Linked DNA regions of Homo sapiens. The main gene of each other region encodes a partner of the protein of the gene in region 4 in a complex. Each region holds a gene or a part of one and is shown on either strand. Other genes may lie near its edges.

What was found.
Region 1: SNRNP40 (region 4) and GPKOW share a complex: the UniProt entries of both Homo sapiens proteins name them as parts of the minor spliceosome.
Region 2: SNRNP40 (region 4) and CRNKL1 share a complex: the UniProt entries of both Homo sapiens proteins name them as parts of the minor spliceosome.
Region 3: SNRNP40 (region 4) and PRPF3 share a complex: the UniProt entries of both Homo sapiens proteins name them as parts of the U4/U6-U5 tri-snRNP complex.
Region 5: SNRNP40 (region 4) and LSM4 share a complex: the UniProt entries of both Homo sapiens proteins name them as parts of the U4/U6-U5 tri-snRNP complex.
Region 6: SNRNP40 (region 4) and DHX16 share a complex: the UniProt entries of both Homo sapiens proteins name them as parts of the minor spliceosome.
Region 7: SNRNP40 (region 4) and LSM7 share a complex: the UniProt entries of both Homo sapiens proteins name them as parts of the U4/U6-U5 tri-snRNP complex.

Annotation. Positions count from the first base shown.
Region 1 is NC_000023.11:49,113,736-49,117,235, forward strand, and holds part of GPKOW (G-patch domain and KOW motifs-containing protein), read right to left. Parts: intron 3,428-3,500; coding exon 3,295-3,427; intron 2,589-3,294; coding exon 2,486-2,588; intron 2,280-2,485; coding exon 2,156-2,279; intron 2,061-2,155; coding exon 1,991-2,060; intron 204-1,990; coding exon 118-203; intron 21-117; coding exon 1-20. UniProt on the Homo sapiens protein: RNA-binding protein involved in pre-mRNA splicing. As a component of the minor spliceosome, involved in the splicing of U12-type introns in pre-mRNAs.
Region 2 is NC_000020.11:20,038,967-20,042,466, forward strand, and holds part of CRNKL1 (crooked neck-like protein 1), read right to left. Parts: coding exon 3,359-3,500; intron 2,660-3,358; coding exon 2,600-2,659; intron 1,801-2,599; coding exon 1,720-1,800; intron 883-1,719; coding exon 643-882; intron 1-642. UniProt on the Homo sapiens protein: Involved in pre-mRNA splicing process. As a component of the minor spliceosome, involved in the splicing of U12-type introns in pre-mRNAs.
Region 3 is NC_000001.11:150,345,533-150,349,032, reverse strand, and holds part of PRPF3 (U4/U6 small nuclear ribonucleoprotein Prp3), read right to left. Parts: intron 3,016-3,500; coding exon 2,897-3,015; intron 2,626-2,896; coding exon 2,542-2,625; exon of another isoform or gene 2,532-2,541; intron 1-2,531. UniProt on the Homo sapiens protein: Plays a role in pre-mRNA splicing as component of the U4/U6-U5 tri-snRNP complex that is involved in spliceosome assembly, and as component of the precatalytic spliceosome (spliceosome B complex).
Region 4 is NC_000001.11:31,286,789-31,290,288, forward strand, and holds part of SNRNP40 (U5 small nuclear ribonucleoprotein 40 kDa protein), read right to left. Parts: intron 2,632-3,500; coding exon 2,466-2,631; intron 1-2,465. UniProt on the Homo sapiens protein: Required for pre-mRNA splicing as component of the activated spliceosome. Component of the U5 small nuclear ribonucleoprotein (snRNP) complex and the U4/U6-U5 tri-snRNP complex, building blocks of the spliceosome.
Region 5 is NC_000019.10:18,309,577-18,313,076, forward strand, and holds part of LSM4 (U6 snRNA-associated Sm-like protein LSm4), read right to left. Parts: intron 3,127-3,500; coding exon 3,028-3,126; intron 286-3,027; coding exon 102-285; intron 1-101. UniProt on the Homo sapiens protein: Plays a role in pre-mRNA splicing as component of the U4/U6-U5 tri-snRNP complex that is involved in spliceosome assembly, and as component of the precatalytic spliceosome (spliceosome B complex).
Region 6 is NC_000006.12:30,659,507-30,663,006, forward strand, and holds part of DHX16 (pre-mRNA-splicing factor ATP-dependent RNA helicase DHX16), read right to left. Parts: coding exon 3,405-3,500; intron 3,237-3,404; coding exon 3,121-3,236; intron 2,926-3,120; exon of another isoform or gene 2,351-2,925; coding exon of another isoform or gene 2,250-2,350; intron 1,112-2,249; exon of another isoform or gene 1,064-1,111; intron 737-1,063; coding exon 526-736; intron 329-525; coding exon 230-328; intron 119-229; coding exon 1-118. UniProt on the Homo sapiens protein: Required for pre-mRNA splicing as a component of the spliceosome. Contributes to pre-mRNA splicing after spliceosome formation and prior to the first transesterification reaction.
Region 7 is NC_000019.10:2,321,021-2,323,303, forward strand, and holds the end of LSM7 (U6 snRNA-associated Sm-like protein LSm7), read right to left. Parts: intron 803-2,283; coding exon 660-802; 3' UTR 501-659; downstream 1-500. UniProt on the Homo sapiens protein: Plays a role in pre-mRNA splicing as component of the U4/U6-U5 tri-snRNP complex that is involved in spliceosome assembly, and as component of the precatalytic spliceosome (spliceosome B complex).

The DNA.
Region 1 (3,500 bases), on a different chromosome or scaffold from region 4:
CGGCTCAGCAAATGTCCCACCTGGAACAGAGGTGAAGTGGAATCAGCAAGGCAAGCCTAGACCCTGGGACAGGCCCTGAACGACCCACAAACCTCTACTGCCAGGTCTGAGACTCACCCTTCCAGTCTGTGGGCCCAGCACCACCATCACACGGTCACCCTCTGCCTTGGGAACCAGGGTCTCCAGCATGTCTTCCCTCAGGCCTATGGATAAGGGAGAGGGGAGTGAGGCCCACAGCAAGGACCAGCCCAACCAGCGTCCTGTCAGAAGGGCCTTTCCTGGCCAGGCGTGGTGGCTCACACCTGTAGTCCCAGCACTTTGGGAGGCTAAGTTGGGAGGATCGCTTGAGCCCAGGAGTTCGAGACCAACCTGGGCAAGATGGTCAGACCTCATCTCTACAGATTTTTTTGTTTTGTTTTTTGAGACTGAGTTTGGCTCTTGTTGCCCAGGCTGGAGTGCAATGGTGTGGTCTTGGCTCACTGCAACCTCCGCCTCCTGGGTTCAAACGATTCTCCTGCCTCAGCCTCCTGAGTAGCTGGGATTACAGGCACCCACTACTGCGTTTGGCTAATTTTGTATTTTTAGTAGAGATGGGGTTTTGACATGTTGGTCAGGCTGGTCTCAAACTCCTGACCTCAGGTGATCCACCCTCCTCGGTCTCCCAAAGTGCTGGGATTACAGGCATGAGCCACCGCGCCCAGCCTACAAAAAATTTTAAAATTAGCCAGGCATGGTGGTCAGTGCCTGCAGTCCCAGCTACTCAGGAGGCTGAGGTGAGAGGATGGCTTGAAACCAGGAATTTGAGGTGGCAGTGATCCATGATGGTGCCACTGCACTCCAGCATAGGTGATAAAATGAGACCCAATCTCAAAAAAAAAAAAAGAAAAAAAAAAAAAAGAAGGGCCTTTCAGCTGGGTGTGGTGGCTCATGCCTGTAATCCCAGCACTTTGGGAGGCTGAGGCAGGAGGATCACGAGGTAAGGGGTTCAAGACCAGCTTGGCCAATATGGTGAAAACCTGTCTCTATTAAAAATACCAAAATTAGCTGGGTGTGGTAGCGGGCACCTGTAGTTCCAGCTACTCAGGAGGCTGAGGCAGAAGAATAGCTTGAACCCGGGAGGCGGAGGTTGCAGTGAGCCAAGATTGCGTCACTGCACTCCAGCCTGGGTGACAGAGTGACTCTGTTTCAAAAAAAAAAAAAAAAAAAAAAAAAAAAAAAAGAAGGGCCTTTCCTGTATTCCCTGGAGCCACTCTACACCCTGTTGACAGATGGGAGTCCCGCCACATCCATTTCACAGATGAGGTAGCCTAAGGAGTAGTTTACAAAAATCACTGTAATAAAGGGTGGTGGTGATAACAACAGGCACCTTTTATTGTGGGCATGTTTTAACCCCTGCCCTGCACTGAGAGCTCAATACACATTCCTTCACTAAGGCACCAATCACAAGAGGAAGAAATAGTAAATTCCATGCTAATTTGACAGACCGGAGGCCGAGCGCGGTGGCTCACGCTTGTAATCCCAGCACTTTGGGAGGCCGAGGTGGGAGGATCACTTAAGGTCAGGAGTTCCAAGACCAGCATGGTCAACATGGTGAAACCCTGTCTCTACTAAAAACACAAAAATTAGCCAGGTGTGGTGACGCTTGCCTGTAATCCCAGCTACTCGGGAGGCTGAGGCAGGAAAATCGCTTGAACCTGGGAAGTGGAGGTTGCAGTGAGCTGAGATCACGCCACTGCACTCCAGCCTGGGTGACAGAGTGAGACTCTGTCTCAAAAAAAAAAAAAAAGAAAAAAAAGAAAACTTGACAGACTGGGAGAGTGGGGCTCAAGATAACCAACCACCATCATGGAAGTGTCTAATGTTCTGTAAGAGGATGCTAGGCCTTGCAAAATACCTGAACTCTGCCAAACCTCCCAGCTTTGCCTGGGCCAGGCTCTGGGCCTAAAACACTCTTCTTGATCAACCTCCAGCTGCCATCGCTCAAACTCACCTTCCAGGACTCGGCCTTCATCTGTCCGACATACACAGGTATCTGGGCTTAGGACATCTTCAATTATCATCTGGGGATACAGGTCAGGGGGATGTGAGATTTTAGAGAGGTAGGGGGGCCCAGTCCCTAGGAGAGGGAGGGGGACTCAGGCTGCAGGGTTCCCACCTTGGTGTTGTAATATTGGCCTCCTTTGTACATGTTGTCCACAAACCGCACACGCAGGTCCCTGTGCAACCAGTGCTGACTTCTGGGGGCTGCTTTCTCACTCTTGGCTGCAGGCCCATCCTGTCTGTGGAGAAGGTGCCAGCACCAGGCTTAGCTCTTCATCAGATGCACTTTCCAGTTGCCCTCCCTTTGCCTATGCTATGAAACCCACCCACAATGCAGTTCCCCGTTCCTTCTATGAGCCCGCCTTGCCTTGGAAGCCTTCCCTGGCTGCTCGAGCCTACCCACAGCCCTGCCTTCTTGACCCCTCCCGCATGCTCAGAGTCCCACCGGTCTGGAAGGTGTTTCCGCTTCCTCTCTGAGTTGTCCTGCTGGATGTAGAGTTCTTGATTCCAGAGGGTCTTCCGTGATGAGGCAGTTCCGTTCTGTTGCCCTGGGGAAGGAAGTTTTGCTCATCTGGCCTGTTCAAGAGGTTATGAGGAGAACCAGGACAGAGCCTCAGTGTCTCACTGCCCTTTCCTTCCAAGGCCATGTCTCAGCCTAGAGCCACCTCCCACCTGCCAAAGTGCCCCTCTCACCCCTCATGCATTTGCTAGTAGAATGCCTCTCCCCCACCTCTCAACCATTTCAGCTTCCTTCAGGAACCCTCCCGCAGCCAACCTAGCCCACAACAACAATGCTCACCTAGTGTGGACTAGAGATTCCCAGAGAGCTCTGTCTGTACCCATTTGCCAAACTGCCCCGTCCTACCGAAACGCCTTCGCCTGTGCTGTTCTGTCTGCCTAGAATTCCTTCCTTCTTGGTCACACCCTAATCCTAGCAGTTCTCACTCCCTAGTAAAAGAGAGGTTCATCACCCCAAATGGACAAAGATCTCGAAGGTAGGAATTGGTTTCTGCACCTGTTTCTTCTCACTCAGACAGGCTACAGACCCAGGGGTATGACATCGACCTTTCTCCAATCAAATGGAGTAAGTCACTTATGTCCATTCTCACCTCCTGACCTCTGATTGGAAGTCATATCTGCCAGGCACACTGCTGCCCCTCCCTGCTGCAGATCTAAAACCACCCCATTAGCCAGGCCCTGCCACCCCTAGGAATGCGTTGCCAACTCCCCTAGCTCTACAAGAGGCTCACTCACTGAGATCCAAGGTGTTCTTGTCAAACTCCTGCTGGGAGACAGGCCGCAGGTAGTACTCACTAACAGTCACCACCCGGCTCCCCACAGCCAGACGAACCATGGCCCGAACATTGTCAGGATCAAGGCCTTCCACCTAAAGTGTTGAGGGGAAGAAGTCAGGTAGGGGTTGTGGACTCCACCCACATTCCTAGGACCAAGATGTCAAC
Region 2 (3,500 bases), on a different chromosome or scaffold from region 4:
GGAGGAGCCGAGGACAACTGATGAACTCAGTGATACCCAAAGCCCTGCCTTAATTAATGCAATCAGGGGGCCAAACCATTAAATGCAGGGTCATGTTAGTGCATGAGATTAACAAAACGGCTGGGTGAGTTCTACGACTCATGTGAGATTCAAATCTTTCCTAGCTGTGGTTTGGTGCTACCTTGTGGGTCAAGCTTAACTACTGAAGGCAGGCGAGGACTTTCAGGACAGTGACAACAGAAGTTGCAAGGACATCCTGGTTTAGAGAATACAGGGATGTGCAGTTCCTACCTCCATCCCCCTCGTTCTCCGGGTGGGCCAGCCTGCTGGCTTCTTCCTTGCCTGGCCTCTTCCCCAGCCCCTTTAGGCTTTCCTGCTGCAGAAGGGGCGTCACCCACCCCCATGATATCCCAGTTCATCCTGGGCATCATCCTGGATGTCTACTGCTCTGGTATCTAATGAGAGGGCTACTTCCCCTGTCCCCCACAGCCACCTTTCCACGTACAAGCCTAATCTGAGTAGAAGAGACTAAGTTAGTTAGATCATCGTTATACTCTAAAATACACCCACATTTAGATGGTCATCTAAAGTAAGACTAAACACGTATCTCAAACAAAATTATATTTGACTTGAGATGCTCACCTCTGGCATGTCTAAACGTGGCTGACTGATGGCTAATTCATAGATTGCCCGTGCTCTGTCAATATCACCAAGGATTGTCTCTAATTCAGCGAATTTAATCCATGAGGTACAATTTTCAGGTCCAAATTCCAGGAACTTTTCATAAAGCTTCCGGCATCTGTCAAATTCTCGAAGCTGTAGCTCCAATTCTATGTAAACTTTAAATAATTTGTTCTTTGGACATTTGCCTATGGAAGTTCCCTGGAAAATAAAATAACCAGACCACTGTGATACTGTAGTGGATTTAATCTGTGCAGTTATTGCACTGCCCTAGAGGCTGTTCTCTGCTGAGGAAGAATCTTGCAAAGTCAACATGGCCTACCATTCTTTCCCTCTGTGGTATCACAATGTTTACTGGTTCTTGACAAAAGGCTGAAGGAAACTCCTCTAATTCACTCAGCAAGAGGCAGTGTTCCAGAATTGTTTGGGCAACTAAATAAAATAAGATTTGAAAGTTTCTCAGGATCTCCTAGGGAATAGGGATGTCAAATGCATAAAACCTCCTATAAATAAAAAGGACAAGGCATGGTGGCTCATGCCTGTAATCCCAGCATTCTGAGAGGCCAACATGGGAGGATCATTTCCGCCCAGGAGGCAGAGGTTGCAGTGAGCCAAGATCGCGCTACTGCATTCCAGCTTGGGGAACAGAGCGAGACCCTGTCTCAAAAAAAAACCAAACAAACAAAAAAAAAAAAAAGAAAAAAAAAGTGGAACAATTAAAAGTGCATTTAACACACCAAAAAGTTTGCACAGGATCAGATTACTAATTCCAGTCTGTGGAAAGATTTAGTAACTGGTAGCTATAGAAGTTTCCAATATTGAAACAGAATGTTAATTTGCCCCAGGTAATAAGAATAATTTACGCATTATTAGTCAGTGTTTTTACAGAGGACGCATGTTTTCTAACATGTCCCAGGCTATAAAGGTATAATACTTCTGTCACTCTTTAAAGTAGGAACTGTACAACTTCCAAGCACCAAGATTTTAATTTCTTTCTCATAGAACTTGATGAGACATCTTGATCCTTTCTTTACTTACCAATGCTCTTCTGGCTAATGACAGATTCTTCTGTCGTATTTCAAACTGTGCATACAGTATCCACATTTTGGCAAATGTGAACTAGAAAACAAAAGCACAAAAATATCTAGCTTAAAAGCCTCATCCAAATTAAATTGAATTAAAATTAATTTAAATTAACCAAAGCCATTGGTAATTCGATTTCTCTAAAACTTCAGAGTAAGAGGAATGTACTCTGCTTATTTACAAGCAAAGACCACATTCATTTCACAAAAGTTAGAAACCCACATACCATGATCCAGATACTATATTGTACTGCATGGCATGGTAACCTCTCCTGAGAACCATGATCCAGATACTGTACTGTACTGTATGGCACGGTAGCCTCTGCTCAGAACAGACTTTGTTTTGTAGGCATGCTTGTATATGGGCAGAATGTCCTACCTCTATTCTGAAAAGTAACTCAGTCAACACTTCTACAGAAGGAAACACGTTTTGTTTCTCGTGCTGGGAAACAAGGCGGAGGTAACATCTCAACCATCTACACAAGGGGCACATTCATCTGTGCATGCACACACTCACTGTTACCAACAAACCCGCCTGTGTGTCCCCCGCACACGTTGTGTGCTCTCTGCATGGATGTCTTTCTCCTTCCACTCAGACTATTCACATTACCTAGCCTTCTCTGAATTTATATTATTTGTTTGTCAATGCAGGTTGTCCTCCAACCTAGTCTGTGAGCTGTTTTCAGAGGCAAGGAGCATATCTCAGTCTTATTTATGTTGTCCATGGTGGGACAGGGAAGCATTTTATCAATCAATATTATTTCACTGAATTACTTCACAAGTAACAGAAGAGGATTCTGACCTGTTTGAAATGGAACACTTTAGAGCAAACATACCTTTTTGTGAGGAATTAGTTCCAAAGAGGCTTGATACACCTGTCTTGTCCTCTCAGGATCCTGTATTAGGATAAGAAATTTTCACAAAATATTGAAGTCTGCTGCTAACACTCATTTTACTAGTTACTAATTTTACTGATATTGGTAAAAATGTACACCCCCAAAACAGCATGTTTCACAAGTTGTTACTTGCAAACCCTGATTTATGATCTAAAGTATGAACGGCCATGAAACTTCAGTTTAAGAATCACCAACAAGATAGCCACCAAACTTCTAAGCCCTTCTTTGTAGAAAGCCGTTTTGCCTGATGGCAGAAAGAAACAAAGATGTTTCATAGTCTCAGATCAAACCCAGAAGGTTAATACAAATGATTTCTGAAAATGCCACTTGATTTTTGCTAAAAGCAAAAATGCATAATCTAGCCAGAATTACTCCTATTAATGAGCAAATCCAGGAAACTATATTTCACTAAATTAAGGGCTGGTTCACTGTTCTCTTTCAAGCTCCAAGTGATATCTTGTTGTGCCTCAAGTAAAAATCAAACCAAAGTTAAAAAAGCCCCTCACGTGTGGCCACAACAAGCACAGAGGGTTTAAAATGTTGCAGAGCGAATATATAACTGTATGGATGAACAGAAGCCTATAAAAATTTAAAACTAAATTTCCTTCTTTCAAGAATTACAAACATCCACAATAGGTGAGCTGTGAATACAGAAGACAGGAAACCATTATCAGCTGACACATAATTCTGTTTTTTCACCTTTGCCTCCAATTCTTCATAGAGTGCATAGTTGATCCAAAGATAAATGTAGCGCTTCCAGTGCCTCTTCTCCTGAATGGGTGGGACATTGGCAATGGCCCTTTCATAGACTTCTCTCACGGCTTCAGCTTCTGCGTCACTT
Region 3 (3,500 bases), about 120 Mb from region 4:
TTTCTGTTGCTCTTTATTTTCCCCAAATTAGACTTGAAGCTCCAAGTAGGCAGTAATATTAATTGATACAATTAGCATTTACATAGCACTTGTTATGAATCAAGAGCTCCACCAGGTACTGGGAATAAGGAAATAAAAGACAAGCAGTCAAGAATAAAAACTTGTCCTAGGCACTTTGGGAGGCAGGCTTCATATGTCAACATCATATATTACTCTCAAAAAACTTTCACCCAATGGAGGAGGAGGGCAGATATACCAAATCAAAATTATCGGCCAGCGTGGTGGCTCACGCCTGTAATCCTAGCGCTTTGGGAGGCTGAGGTGAGTGGATCACCTGAGGTCAAGAGTTTGAGACCAGCCTAGCCAACATGGCGAAACCTCATCTCTACTAAAAATACAAAAATTAGCCAGGTGTGGTGGCAGGTGCCTGTAATCCGAGCTTATCAGGAGGCCGAGGCAGGAGAATCACTTGAACCTGGGAGGCGGAGGCTGCAGTGAGCCAAGATGGTGCCACTGCACTCCAGCCTGGGCAAAAGAGCAAAGACTCCATCTCAAAAAAAAAAAAAAAAAAATGCACGTGTAGAACAAAATATTTTTTATTCTCAGGTATCTTAAGATGAACTCTCTGCAGATTTTATTTATATTTTTATTTTTTTGAGACGGAGTCTTGCTCTGTCACTCAGGCTGGAGTGAAGTGGTATGATCTCAGCTCACTGCAACCGCTTCCTGGGTTCAAGTGATTCTCCTGCCTAGGCCTCCCGAGTAGCTGGGATTACAGGCGCACGCTGCCACGCCCAGCTCATTTTTGTATTTTTTAGTAGAGACGGGGTTTCACCATGTCAGGCTGGTCTCAAACTCCTGACCTCAGGTGATCCACCCGCCTCGGCCTCCCAAAGTGCTGGGATTACAGGCATAAGCCATCACACCAGGCCTCTCTGCAGATTTTAAATGCTAATCCAGGTGTTCAAAGATGAGAAGAATGAACACTAATGGGAGTATGATGGCCAGAAGAATGTCTGGCCTTCAAATATAGACAGACAGTCCTTGACTTACAATTTTTTGCCTTGAGTATAGTGTGAAAGTGATAAATATTTAGTAGAAAATGTACTTCAAATTTTAAATTTTGAGATTTTCCTGGGCTAGCAATATGCAGTAAAATACTCTTACATGAGATAAAAATAGGCTTTGTGTTAGATGATTTTGCCCAACTGTAGGCTAATCTAAGTATTCTGAGAAAGTATAAGGAAGGCTAGGCTGTTATGATGTCCTGTAGGTCAGATGTATTAAATGCATTTTTTTTTTTTTGAGATGGAGTCTTGCTCTGTCGCTTAGGCTGCAGTGCAGTGGTGCGATCACAGCTTACTGCAACCTCCGCCTGCCAGGTTCAAGCGATTCTCCTGCCTCAGCCTCCCGAGTAGCTGGGATTACAGAGGTCCACCACCACGCCCCGAATTTTTGTGTTTTCAGTAGAGACGGGGTTTCACCATGTTGGCCAGGCTGTTACGAACTCCTGACCTCAAATGATCTGCTCGCCTCGGCCTCCCAAAGTGCTCAGATTATAAGTGTGAGCCACCGTGCCTGGCCTTAAATGCATTTTTGACTTAACAATATTTTCAATTTATCTCAGGTTTATTGGAACTAACCCCATCATTAAGTTGAAGAGCATATGTGTGAGTATGTACATGTACATGTATGTGTGTGTATTGTGTGTATGTGTATGTGTGTGTACATGTGTGTATGTATGTGTGTGTGTGTGTATGTATGTGTATGTGTGTATATATATATATCAGACAAAAGAAATAGTTTGATCAAAGCAGAGCTTTTTTGACCTGAAGATCTTTTTGGCTTCAATCCTTAAAAAAAAAAAAATCAAATAATAATATAATATAGACACTGTACACATGAATGTATAGCTTACTAGATTTGCTTTTTCTTTTTTTTGAGACAGGGTCTCATTCTGTCACCCAGGCTGGATTGCAGTGGCACGATCACAGCTTACTGCAGCCTCGACCTCCCCAAGCTCAAGTGATCCTCCCACCTCAGCTTCCTGAGTAGCTGGGAATACAGGTGTGTGCCACCACATCCAGCTAATTTTTGTACTTTTTGTAGATATGGGGTTTCACCACGTTGTTTGCCCAGGCTGGTCTCGAACTCCTGGCCTCAGGCAATCTGCCCGCCTCAGCCTCCCAAAGTGCTAGGATTACAGGCATGAGCCACCATGCCTAGCTGCTTGCTGAATTTTCAAATACTGAATAAATTCATGTAACCGGTACTCAGATCCAGGACAGACACAGAAACCAGCTGGTAGAAAAGCCTTAAATGATAGGCAAAAAAATAGCTTTACCATTCATGCATATAATCATGTAGTAAATATTGTATGAATGTCTAGGAGGCTCAAAGTCTAAACGGGTCTTTCTAAAATTCCTGAACACTATCTAGTGTTATCAAGAGTGTCACAGGGAGGAAATAAGATGAACGGACAGATGCACCATCCCCACCTCCCATAGCTCTCCCCCTTAATCCCCTCTAACCCCCATTCACCATCTCCCTTTGTGTTAGATGTCTGTTCATCCCACTTTATCCGATGCAGCATAAGACGCTTAAATTTCTTCTGGGCCTTGGGGCCTGGAAACAGAGAAGAATAATTTTGCCAGAACTGTGGAAGATGATGGGGTAGAAAGAACCTCTGAGCTCAGACATTAATGTGGTAGTTGAAGCAATCTCAGGAACCACATCTTAGGGCCTTCTACTCCAAAAAACACAGAAGCAGAGACCTAGCATATTATATCAGGTATGGCACTAAAATACGATCTTTTTCTCCTTTCTCCCCACAATGCTAATCACTCTAAGCCTAGGGTTGTCTGGGGACAGTCTCCCTCAAGTTTTTCAGACTCACCCCCTTCCACTACTACCACGTTGACATCCTTGTGCAGTACCACCACCCCTGTCAGGTACAGTTGCCCAGCATTGGCTTCAATCTTGAACTTCTTGGCTGGGTTGCTCAAATTTCGAACTCTGGAGAAGGGAAAGTTTAGTTATGTCTTCCATTTTAGCATCAGCAGCTGCCTGAATGGAGTGGCAAGTAAAAAGATGAATCCAAAATGGTTTCCTCTCTATAAACAAAGGCCTCTGGAGTAAACAAATAGATGAATGCTTAAAAGGTAGAGTTGATGAGTCTAGAAATATTTCCACACTCTTACATTTCTTCAAAGTCTAGCACTTTACATTAACCATTACATTACTAACCAAAGTTTACTCTAAGAGTCAGGGAGAGGTATTTACTATCATCCAAAAATACTTACAATCTCATTGTTCTTGACAATGTAAAGACCTACAGACTTTTTGTCCTCTAGACCCTTAGACTCTTATAATATAGGATTACTTGGCTGGGTGCGGTGGCTCATGCCTGTAATCCCAGCACTTTGGGAGGCCAAAGTGGGCAGATCACGAGGTCAGGAGTTTAAGACCAGCCTGGCCAACATGGTGAAACCCCATCTCTA
Region 4 (3,500 bases):
AGTGTGGATGCTCTCCTTACCACACTTGTGCTCTGACACTCTACTCTGGGCCACCTTGGCCCATCTCTAACTAGAGCACCTTCCCTGCTTTGGCCTATATAACTGGCTTTAGGACTGAACTGCTCATGAAAGGGAAATTTATATATATATGAGTACATACACACATACACGCAGTATTTCACTTAATTTTATTAGAAGAATGCACTTGATAAAAAGTTTGAAAACGATCTGTATGAATAATGCCCAGAATGCTTTTAGACTAAAAATGCAAGTGCTGTTGGAAACCTTTGCTTTCTGTTAAGAACTCTGACATGTAAAAAGCAACATGACTTTTTTTCCTCTTAAACTGAAGTTATTCAATTCCTGTACTTGCAACCTAGTAACAAAAATACAAGAACACAAAGCATTCCAACTTCACAAGTAACTGAAAAGTACATTGCAAAAAGCTGTTTAATGATGCCTTAAATATAAATATACTGACATTAAAAATAGGAGCTGGTTAAAAAGCAGTCATCTTTAGGTGATGTGACATACTGCTTATTAAAAAAAGTATTAACTTGAGTAATAAGGTAAAAATAACTATTCCAAATCATGTTTAATTAAGGCAGAAGAGAAGCAAAAAACCAAAAGAAGGCAGACAGAAAGGACATATACTCTTTTTCTACTACCTAAATAGTTCCTAGATATTTATTACAGCAGGCCCTCAATAATAATGTTAACAAAATTCACTGGGGCATTTCCACCTCTTACTATCTTCTGAAATGACAATTAGTAAATCAGCTACTGTTAAGACTCTCCAACTACAGTGACATCTAGGTCAGAGCTCTGGTTTAGAAACCAATCTTAAACAACAGACTCTCCTCCCATCCAACCATCAAGGGGCCCCAAGTGATTAGGTATAAGAAAACCACTCAGTAGAAAAACGTCTCAGCCAAGTGTGGTGGCTCACGCCTGTAATCCCAGCACTTTGGGAGGCCGAGGGGGGCGGATCACAAGGTCAGGAGTTTGAGACCAGCCTGGCCAATATGATGAACCCCTGCCTCTACTGAAAATACAAAAACTAGCTGGGCGTGGTATGGGTCCCTGTAGTCCCAGCTACTAGGGAGGCTGAGGCAGGGGAACTGCTTGAACCCAGGAGGTAGAGGTTGCAGTGAGCTGAGATTGCGCCACTGCACTCCAGCCTGGGCAACATGGTGAAACCCCATCTCTACCAAAAATAGAAAAATTAGGCAGGTATGGTGGTGTGCACCTGTAATCCCAGCTACTCAAGAGGCTGAGGCTGGGGAATCACTTGAACCCGGGAGGTGGAGGCTACAGTGAGCCAAGATTGTGCCACTGCACTCCAGCCTGGGCGATAGAGCAAGACCCTGTCTCAAAGAAAAAAAAAAAAAAGCAAATTCATTAATTCATTTAAAAAGCAATAAGAAGTATGGGGGTGTAGTTTCCCAGATGTACTCTTTTGAAGTCCCTCACTGTTTAACAATTAAAATATAAACCAGAGCCCAAAATTCGTGTCAAAGAGAGAATCAAATGGTTGGTACTATGATGTACTGTGTCCTTGTGTGCCTCTGAGATAAATTATTATTTCTAGGCCTCAGTTTCCTTATTTATAAAATGAGGATGCTCAGTGAGATCAGTGGCTCCCAGAATGTGAGACTGGCTACACTGAATCACTTGAAGGACACATTAAAATATCTGATTCCCATTGCAGATCCACTGAACCAGATTCTTTGGGTATTTTTAACAGGTTCTTCAGGTGATGATGATATAAAGATAGGCTGGCAACCATCTGACTAAACGATGTTTAAGTTCCCATCTTGTGCCATACTAAAACTATTCACTGAACTTTTTATATATTGTCTATAATCTCAGAACAGCCTTTTTTTTTTTTTTGCTACCTCCCTGTTGGTGGAGATACTCATAACAGCCTTGAAAGACACGTATATTACTGTCACAGTTCTTTTTTTTGAGACAGAGTCTCGCTCTGTCGCCCAGGCTGGAGTGCAGTGGTGCAATCTCTGCAAGCTCCACCTCCCGGGTGCACACCATTCTCCTGCCTCAGCCTCCCAAGCAACTGGAACTACAGGTGCCCGCCATCACGCCCGGCTTATTTTTTGTATTTTTAGTAGAGACGGGGTTTCACCGTGTTAGCCAGGATGGTCTTGATCTCTTGACCTCGTGATCCACCCGCCTCGGCCTCCCAAAGTGCTGGGATTACAGGCGTAAGCCACAGCACCCGGCCTATTTCAAGTAACAATTTATTCTATGGTTCTATTATTATTCTGTAGGGTAATTAAAACTTGTATTAAATGTTTTATTTTAAATGGGGAAAAATTTCAAGTGTGTTATGGGAGATGACTGCTAAAATTAAGTTTTGCACAGGAAGCTAGAGTACAAGTGGCAAGGCAAGATAAGGTTCACATCACATCACCTCAGAAACTGGAACACGGAGAGACAATACCCACCTTAACTGTGCCATCGTCACTGCCAGTGCAGACAAGCTGAGGGCCTCTCCTGGCTGGATAACAGGAATTCACAAAGGAAGTATGTCCCTTTAGCCTTTTAACCCTCTCACCTGTTTCACTATCCCACACAGCCACGGTTTTATCTGTGGATGCTGAGAAAAGCATACTAGAAAGTAAGAGAAAGAATAAAAAAGAAATAAGTGAAGATAAACAGTAACAATCTATCTTTCCTACTTGACAAAAGGTGCCAAATTTTTCAAGATCACTGACCTGCTGTGCTACGCCAGTTTGCCCATGATGCTGGAATGCCTCACCCTACCAAAATCCTATTTGTCCTCTAGGCCCAGATGGCCCAGATAAAAGATCTACCCCTGTGAAGTTTAAAAAATTCCCCTTCTTTGAGTCCCCATGACATACATCTAATGTAGCAGTTTGCTCTATCTTTTCCTCTTTTGTGATAGCTAACATTTTAAACATAAGACACCCTCTCACTTGGAAATGTTTAATAACTCCCTGGTGCTGCAGAGATCAGACAGACTGTGGTACCGACCTGACAGCTGAGTGACTCCAATCTTTTCTCTTTACCAAAGTTTTTCTTTTGTCTCTGAGGACAATTTCTTTCTTTCATTTTTTTTTTGAGATGAGATCTTGCTCTGTCACCCGGGTTGGAATCATGGCTCACTGCAGCCTCGACCTCCTGGGCTCAAGTGATCCTCCCACCTCAGCCTCCTGAGTAGCTGGGACCACAGGTCTGTGCCACCATGCTCAGTTAATTTTTAAAAATCATTTGTAGAGGCAAGGTCTCACTATGTTGCCCAGGCTGGTCTTGAACTGGGCTCAAGCAATCTTCCTGCCTCAGCCTCCTACAGTGCTAGGGTTATAGGCGTAAGCAACCACGCCCAGCCTCTGAGGATGATTTCTAAGTTATAACTGATCTTATAATGCTTTCTTTTTTCATTTTTTTTGAGATGGAGTCTCACTGTGTTGCCCAGGCTGGTTTTGAACTCTTGGGCTCCAGGAATCCTCCTGCCTCAG
Region 5 (3,500 bases), on a different chromosome or scaffold from region 4:
AGGCTCCGAGGCAGCGCTGCAAGGGCAACCCCAAGAAGGAGGGATGCCACGTGTGGCTGTCTTCCCGCCCCAGGTACGTCCACTGGAGAGGGGAGACCCACCTCGGCCAGCGCCGCCCATGCCGCGGCCTTTCTGCTGCTTCTGCTGCTGCAGGCCTCCGCGGCCGCGGCCCTTGGCCACCACCTCCTCCTTGACCATGTCGATGATCTCGTCGGGGATGCGCAGGTACTTGATGGTGCTGCCGCGGATGTAGCACTCGGGCATCCGCCAGAACTTGTCCCCGTCCTGCGGAGAAGGGGAGCAGGTTATTAACTTACCACCGGGCCGTCTGGCCCAGCCCTGGGAGCGCGGGAGGCCCTGCAGATCCTGCCCAGCCTGCACCCCGTACCACCCCTGCAAGCTGCACAGTATCAGTCCCGGGACATACGTGGCAAAGGGTCCACCCTGCAGGCAGGATCTGTCCTGACCCCAGGCAATCCTTCACCCAGGAGCAAGGGTGGGTGTGGTAGGCGCAGCCCCCATTGTGCACTCACAAGGAAGACTGGCTCCTATCCTCTGCCCGTGGGCCTGGCTCAGGAGTGGCTGACTGGGGCTCCCTCCAGCCTGGGATGGGGCTCTCTCTGGTTGGGGTTCTTCACCTGCAGCCCAAAGCCCAGAGCGGGTGGGGGCCTCCCTGTGCACCAGACACAGCCGAAGCCCAGCTACTCCTCCTCCTGCCCCAGCCCCACCTCACTTCTGGAAGCCTCTCTACATGCCCTGACTCATTCATTCATCTAAGTATCTCCTGACAGGGCCTGCGCTGGGTGCAGGGACATGCGAGCAAGCTACAGGCCTAGTGTGGTGGGTGAAGAGGGGCGGGAAATGGGGGGACTTGGGTCCTGCCAGGGTGGCTCAAGGGCGGCTCCCAGCGATGCCAGTTTTAGGAGAGCTAACCAAGACTGGAGAAATGGGGGCCTTGCAAAGACACAGACTCATGCTGCAATGCCTCCGAGGCCCCCACTGGGACAGATCGAGGGATTAGCAGGGGCCAGGGCCATTCCTACCATATCAGTTTCCCAGCCCCGCCCCACCGCCCAGGTTCCTGGACAGACCCACGCACGACGCCTGGATGGCCTTTGCCCCCGATGCCCTTTAAAGTCAGATCACAGTATGTTCCAGCTTGGAACCCACCCAGGGCCCCCTCCAGCCTGGGGGCAAGGTCTAAGAACCTCAGCAGGGCTCTCTAGGGCCCGAGATCCTGCCCCGCCCTGGCGGTCCTCTCCCAGCCCGACGACACTCCCTCCAGATGGAACTTTCTGTTTCCGGAACACACGCCATGGGCTTGCCCCCAGAACTTTGCACGTGGTTTTCCCACTTCTCATCTGGCTAACTTTGACCCCAAAAGGCCTTACCTGCCCGAATCCCCAAGTCCTCCTGTCAGACACTCTCCTCCACACCTGGGTAGGTGTGGCCTGGCCTAGCGCTGGGCGGGGAGGAACAGCCCCTTTGGGTGCTCACTCTCCCAGGAACCCCTCGAGGGCTCGTGGGGCGGACACACCATGGTTCTGTGGGGACTCAGGGCCTGGGCAGGTGACTTGGCGCCCAGCTCTCCCAGGCAGGGCCCAGAGGCTTCCTCGTGCAGGAACCTGGGCAGGGCCTGAGCTCACTGCAGGGAGGCCCCTGCCTCCTGCCCACAGCGCTCCAGAGGTCTCTCAGCCCGGGGTCTCTGCATCCTGCGGCCTGCCTCTGAGGGAGGGAGGGCCCCACTTAGATGGGGACGATGTGAGTTCCCATCGCCTCTCCTCCCAGCCACATGTGACGGCAGCATCACCGCCTGGCCACAGAGGCAGGCTGCTCAGGGAAAGCCATCCGTCCACTCGAAGCTGGAGGCAGAGGCCAAACCAACCCCTGGAGACCACGCAGCCTCTGAATCAACAGGCTTCTCATGTCTAGGACCTGGAGGTGTCCACAAGACCGCACATGCTCACGCACGCAACACGCCTGGTGATTCCAATACCGGAAGTGGACAGAGCCCCGCTGGCCGCAGATGGGAGGCACGCGGTTCTGCACCAAGGCACCATCCGACACAGCCAGACTGGACCCACCCAGACGCCCTCCGACAGGCTATGGCACGAAACCCAGCAAGCAGTTTCTAGAGCTTCTAGCGCTGCTGCACAGCAGCCTCACCACCTGTCCCCACCCCGCCCAGCCCTGTGCTGATGAGAGGCCCAGTCCCGGGTGGGGGTGGCGGTCAGGGCAAGATACGGCCACTTCAGGAAGAAGCGCCTCCCCCCTCGAGCCCTGTTGTCCTGTCAAGGTGACCCCAGGCAGGCACTCCAAGCTCCCCAGCAGTTTCCTCCCTATACCATGGGGGGCTGTCACCCACAGGGAGACAAGACAGATGGGGTCAGGGAAGGTTGGTGGGAGGAGTCCAAGGGAGCCGCTGCCTTCAGCACCATCCCTGGCCTCCTCCTCAGTGCTCTGTGGGTCATCCCAGGGGCAGGGAAGGCCCGTGACACCAGGGGAACCATCTTCCAGCCCCGGCCGACCCAGCAGCACTCCTAGCCAGGCACTTCCGGTCTTGGGCTCTGGCTGGTGGCTCCTGACCCACCGGGCCCTGGCGCTGCTCCTGCCCACCGTGACCTGGGCATCCCGGACATCCCAGGGCCACACTACCATGGCCCGCAGAGTGCAGGCAACATCCAGGCTGGACTAAAGGCAGCAGAGTCCGGGAGTCTTGGGCCTCCCCTGGAGGGGGCTGCCCCAGCCTGAGCCACAGGGAGTCCCCAGTCCTAGGTCCTTCCAGGTCAGGGGTGGCACCAACAGACACACAGCAGGAAAGTCTCCCACAGGGTCAAAGTCCAGGGCACACTGGGAGACTTGGTGGCCTAGCTCACCCTGCCCTGTCCCTCCTGACTGACCCCTGGAAGGACGAGCAGTCCTAGGCGGCCTCCCCCACTGACTCCTCCCATGAGGCCCAGGGAGGGAGGGAGGAGGCTGAGTGTGCACCCCCTGCATCCCACCCCCGTTGGTGGGTGCAGCACCCACCCTGGACGTGCAGATGACTTCTCGCAGGTTAATGTTCATCCAGTTGTCGCAGCTCACCAGGTGTCCATTGTACGTCTCCCCATTTTTCAGCTCCACCAACTAGAAGAGAGACAGGCTAGAGGTTGGCTGTAGCCCTGGAGCCCTGCGCCATGGGCCCCTCAGGAGGTGTAGCTCTGCCCTGAGATGGACCACCACCTCCGGGCCTCAGCCCACAGTTCCCAGACCCCTAAATGGCCTTCCTTACAGGCGACAGGCTCTGCCTCCGCTAGACACTTCGCTGGCAGTTAGACAGTCTATCATGACGCCAACCTTTGTGCAATTAAAAAATGATACTGGGCCGGGCGCGGTGGCTCACGCCTGTAATCCCAGCACTTTGGGAGGCCGAGGCAGGCAGATCACGAGGTCAAAAGATTGAGACCATCCTGACCAACATGGTGAAACCCCATCTCTACTAAAATCATAAAAATTAGCTG
Region 6 (3,500 bases), on a different chromosome or scaffold from region 4:
GGGCCTGCATGTCAGAGGGCAGATTGGCATAAATGGGCAGCACCAGGAGCTCCCGGATTTTGGAGCCCAGGCGGCGGCAGCGATCCTGGAGCATCTCACAGGCAGCCTCAATCTCCTCCTGGATAGAGGGTAGGGAGAGCAGCAGGGGTCCCAGAGTCACAGAAGGCCAACATGCCGGCCCTGTCTTCCCCTGGGATACATCATCCCCTCTCCCCACCATGTCAGGCACCTGTCCTGTCAGGAACACCAGGATATCCCCAGGGGGCTGGGTCACATGGATCTGCAACACAGATACTACACAAGCTTCCAAGTAGTCAGCCTCTGGAGCCTGGAGAGCAGAAAGAGATGGGGTCACAGGAGGGCCACCTGCTTAGGCAAACCTTTCCTCTCCTCCCAATTCAACATACACTTTATCCTAGTTCCCCTTTGAACCTTCCATTCCATCTTTCCCTCCACAGGATAACCTTCTCCAAAGGCCTCAGCTTTTCTGCCACAGACTTAAGCCCATCCTCCCTGAGGGGGCACCTTGGTGTAGAAGATGTCCACAGGAAACCTGCGTCCGGGGATTCGAAACACAGGGGCGTCATCAAAGAAGGTGGAAAAACGGGCAGTGTCCATTGTGGCTGAAGCCACCAGGACCTTGAGCTCAGGTCGGAAGCGAGCAACATCCTTGATCAATCCAAAGAGAATGTCTGTGTGTAGGGTCCTTTCGTGTGCCTCATCCACCATCACCACGCTGGGGAGGGAATAGGAGAGCAATGAGGGAAGAGCGCTAGGCAATGCAGTATCAGACACCAGAGTTAACTGGATGAGAGGGGAGTAATGGACACAAAGAGTTCAAGAATGACTGTTGACGGAGGGGGCTCTAAGGAGAAGTCAGCCATCCCACTTATGTAGAGCAACAGAAAGTCAGAGAAGGCCAGGGCCCCATGATCTGCAACCTATCCCAGCCTCAGCAGATAATAGGAGACAAGATGTAGAGGCTGCACACTGAGGCCAGGACAAGTTAGCCATACCCTCTAGTTCAGTCAAGAGTCTGCTTAGACTCAGCAGCTGCTCTTACTAGAAAAAGTTGAAGGATATGTTTTAGGCTGGGCATGGTGGTAGCTCACGCCTGTAATCCCAGCACCTTGGGAGGCCGAGGCAGGTGGATCACAAGGTCAGGAGTTCGAGACCAGTCTGGCCAATACAGTGAAACCCCGTCTCTTCTAAAAATACAAAAAAAATTAGCCAGATGTGGTGGTAGACGCCTGTAGTCCCAGCTACTTGGGAGGCTGAGGCAGGAGAATCGCTTGAACCTGGGAGGCAGAGGTTGCAGTGAGCCAAGATCGTGCCACTGCACTCCAGCCTGGGTGACAGAGCGAGACTCCATCTAAAAAAAGAAAAAAGAAAAAGTGGAAGGATTTTTTTTTTGAGACAGTCTTGCTCTGTTGCAGGCTGGAGTGTAGTGGCATGATCTCAGCTCACTGCAAGCTCCGCCTCCTGGGTTCACACCATTCTCCTGCCTCAGCCTCCCAAGTAGCTGGGACTACAGGTGCCTGCCACTGTGCCTGGCTAATTTTTTGTATTTTTAGTAGAGACGGAGTTTTGAAACAGAGTCTCACTCTGTCGCCCAGGCTGGAGTACAGTGGCACGATCTCGGCTCACCGCAAGCTCCGCCTCCTGGGTTGCGTTCACGCCATTCTCCTGCCTCAGCCTCCTGAGTAGCTGGGACTACAGGTGCCCGCCACCACGCCCAGCTAATTTTTTATATTTTTTAGTAGAGACGGGGTTTCACCGTGTTAGCCAGGATGGTCTTGATCTCCTTACCTCGTGATCCGCCTGCCTCTGCCTCCCAAAGTGCTGGGATTACAGGCGTGAGCCACCGCTCCCGGCTGATACGTTTTAAAGGAAAAAAAAAGTGGAAGGCAGGGTCCCTTTCAATAAGGGTGGGCCAGCAAGGCTGACTGGGGGTAATAGACCTGAGCTGCTGTGATTCAAATAGCCTAGAAGCTCCTGGTGTCCTGTGGGACAACTGCTGCTGGCATCATTCTTGACTGTTTCTTCTTTTGGAGACAGGAGCAAGTTAAGCCTTTCTACCTCAACTCTCACAGGACTCTGCATGCTCCTTGGTTTCCTCCTAACTCAGTTATGTGCATGACACCTTCTTTCTCTTTGTTCTTTGGCTTTTCTGGGTGGCAGCCAAGTCCCAGGAACTCATCCCCATCTTCCCCTACCCACCTCCCTGACCTCAACTCTTTGTGCCTAACCCTAACTGTGATGGTGAAGTCCCCAGCCATTCCACAAAGCAGGCTGGCTCGATGGGCAAAAACATCTGCATCAGACACTCTTGCGCTGGCTGGCTCTCCATGGGTTCTTAGAGATCTTTTGCAAGGGATATGAAGGATAAAATCCTATCTGTCCAATTGCTCCACTGTGATCTTCCAAGACCAGAAATTCACAGCCTCTGAAGAGTCAAAAAGGCACATATTGTTCAGCTGGCCTGACCCCACCCCCATTACATTCATGAATCCCTTTTCCCCCTCAACACATGTTCAACCAACCCCTGCTTGGCCATTTCCAGCACTAAGAGCTCATTATTCACAGACCAAGCTACCCAAGACTTGTGTGGAGGGCCAAGACCCAGAGTCCAACCACTCTGACAGGCCCTGCAATCTCCACCACTCTGAGGGTTACTCAGCCATTGGTATTGAGTTGGAATCTGTCTCCCTGTAACCTCCCCATGGCTCCTAGCTATGTCGTGTAGGGTCACATAAAACAATCTGATCCTTCTTTCCATGTAACAGCCTTCACATATTTAGAGGGAACCAGGATGCTTCCTGTTTCTCCCTCTGAGCTGAGCATTCCAAGTGTTTTCAAATGGTCTTCACACGGTATTTCAAGTCTCGGCAGCAATGCTCTGCTATCCTGGTTGTTTTCTAAACCCTGGAGATGAATGGGGAAAGAAGAGGCTTTCTCTACAATCTCTTCTGTCCTCCAGCCCCATCTCCGTGGTACCTGGAGGTCAGTTCAAGGACCATTTGAACCACAAAGATTCAAGAACGGGTGGATTAATCAGAAGACAATGGCTGAATTGGCTGGGTGGGAAGAAGGGAGAGAAAGGCCAGAGATTAGAGATACCTGTAACTCGCCAGGTCAGGCTCAGAGAGGAACTCCCGGAGAAGCATCCCATCTGTCATGTAGCGGAGGACAGTTCGCTCTGATGTGCAGTCCTCAAAGCGGATGCTGTAGCCAACCTGGTCAAGGGAACCATTAGCAACCAAGTGTGGGCTGGTGTGCCCTGAAAGGAACTTGGGGAAAGGTGAAGTGGGGCAGCACCAAGACTTCTGCTGTAGGGACCTGAGGGAACTGTAGACTGAGTCACAGACCCCAGACTCTACCCCCCGGTTCCCTAGAAATCTCACCTCATTCCCAAGCTTCACACCCATCTCCCGGGCCACTCGGGCGGCCACACTCATGGCAGCCACTCTCCGGGGTTGGGTGCAGGCAATCTTCATACC
Region 7 (2,283 bases), on a different chromosome or scaffold from region 4:
AGCAGCGGGGGCAGGTGTTAGCTGCATGGGCTGTGGGGTCTGGCCTCTTGATGCACCCCGGCTCCTGATGCACCCCAGCCTCCTGATGCACCCCGGCTCCTGATTCACCCCAGGTCCTGACACACCCAGCTCCTGACACACCCAGCCTCCTAATGCACCCCAGCCTCCTAATGCACCCCGGCTCCTGACGCACCCCGGCCTCCTGATGCACCCCGGCCTCCTGATATACCCCAGCCTCCTGATGCATCCCGGCTCCTGATGCACCCCAGCTCCTGCTGTCTTGGGGGCGGGCCTGGGGTTCCACAAGCCCCTCATCAGACTGAGGTTCCAAACTCGCCTGTCTCGGCCTTGGCTGTGCCCGCCTTGGTCACTCCTGAACCCTCACCCCCAGGAGGGACCATGGCTGGTATTTGATGAGCTCCAGGGACTGAGTCCAATCTCCAGGAATCCAGGTTTCCTCAGAAGGTCAAGGGAAAAGCAAGATTCGGGGCTCAGACACATTGAGGTTTGCAATTTTATTAAGAAAACAAAAATTCAACCTATACAAAAAGGAAAATGCTTCCGTTCCAGGAGGCGGTACTGCGGTGGGAGCAGCAGCCAAGTCCGCGGGAAACCGAGCTGCTCGGGCCTGCCCTGCACCCCCCGCGCCCCCGGCCAGGCTAGGCGTCCTGCTGCTGGATGAAGGGGTTGGGGATGGCCTCCATGCCGTCCTGCGGGCAGATTAGCACCACGGACGTGCCCCGGCACACCACGAGGCCCAGCTGCCGGGTGTCCTCCGTGAGCTTGTACTGGTCGTCAGGGTCTGGGGAGGAGCAGATAGAGAGGACTGAGGGACCTCCAGGAAGCCTCCGAGACCCCCCACCCACCCAAGACCCTCGCTCCGACCTCCCCACCTGCACCCTGCAGGCGCCACGAGCACGCAGGGACCTCAGACGGGATGCGCTCTGTGGGGCAGGTCCCCGGCTCCCACGGCTGAGACCCATGGCCCCTAGAGACCAGTGGCAGCTCCACAGACAGCAGCCACAGCCCTCCCTCACTCCACAAACCATGGGAACAAGAAGGCCCAGGTGATAGCCGGCTACCCCGCGTCTCAGAGCTCACTGGGGCCCAGGCACCAGGGCCGGGAACCAGGTTATCAGATGGCCGGCCAGAATACAGGCACCCTGGGCCTCCTGGTCTCTGCAAGGTCCCTGGAGCCCTAGGGGGCCAATATTCACCCTATAACAAAGAGGCTGGGGGCCGGGCGCGGTGGCTCACGCCTGTAATCCCAGCACTTTGGGAGGCCAAGGCAGGCGGATCACGAGGTCAGGAGATCGAGACCATCCTGGCTAACTTGGTGAAACCCCGTCTCTACTAAAAAATACAAAAAAATTAGCCGGGCGTGGTGGCAGGCACTTGGAGTCCCAGCTACTCGGGAGGCTGAGGCAGGAGAATGGTGTGAACCCAGGAGGCGGAGCTTGCAGTGAGCCGAGATCGCGCCACTGCACTCCAGCCTGGGTGACAGAGCGAGATTCCATCTCAAAAAATAAAAAAATAAAGAGGCTGTTCATGTGGGGTGGGGACCATGTGGGCTGGCACCCCAGGGAAGTGCCAGCAAGCCCAAGACAAGCTCTCAAGAGGCTGAAGGCGATTAAAACTCCTCACTACTGTGGTCCTGCAGTGGTGGGGGCATGGGAGAACCATGGGGCCCAGGTTTTTAAACTTTTTTTCAGACACCAGGTCTTGCTCTGTTGCTCAGGTTGGAGTGCAGCAGTGCAATCACAGCTCACAGCCTCAACCTCCTGGGCTCAAACAATCCTCCTGCCTTAGCCTCCTGAGTAGCTGGGGCCACAGGCACATGTACCGCCATGCCTGGCTAATTACATTTTTTTTTTTTTTGTAGAGACAGGGTCTCACTATGTTGCCCAGGCTGGTCTCAAATTCCTGGGCTCGAGTGATCCTCCTGTCTTGGCCTCCCAAAGTGCTGGGATTACAGGCATGAGCCACCATGGCCAGCTACAAGAATAAATCTTGTCTCAGTATCAATGGATCCAAGGGGCAAGACCCTCTCTCTCCTAAGTCCTGACATTCCCCCAGTGCCCGGGCCGGGATGGGGACTTGCCAGCTGGGGACTTGCCGCAGGAGCTTCTGGGGGAGAGTCTGAGGACTTGGCGGCCTCACTGGGGAGGGGAGCGAGCGGGGGCAGGGAAATGAGGGAGGGTCCTCTGGGGAGGAGACAGGGACCCTGCGTTCATAGCGGGAATTAACAAGGGCAGAAGAGGAAAGGCGCCCGAGAGGAGCCCC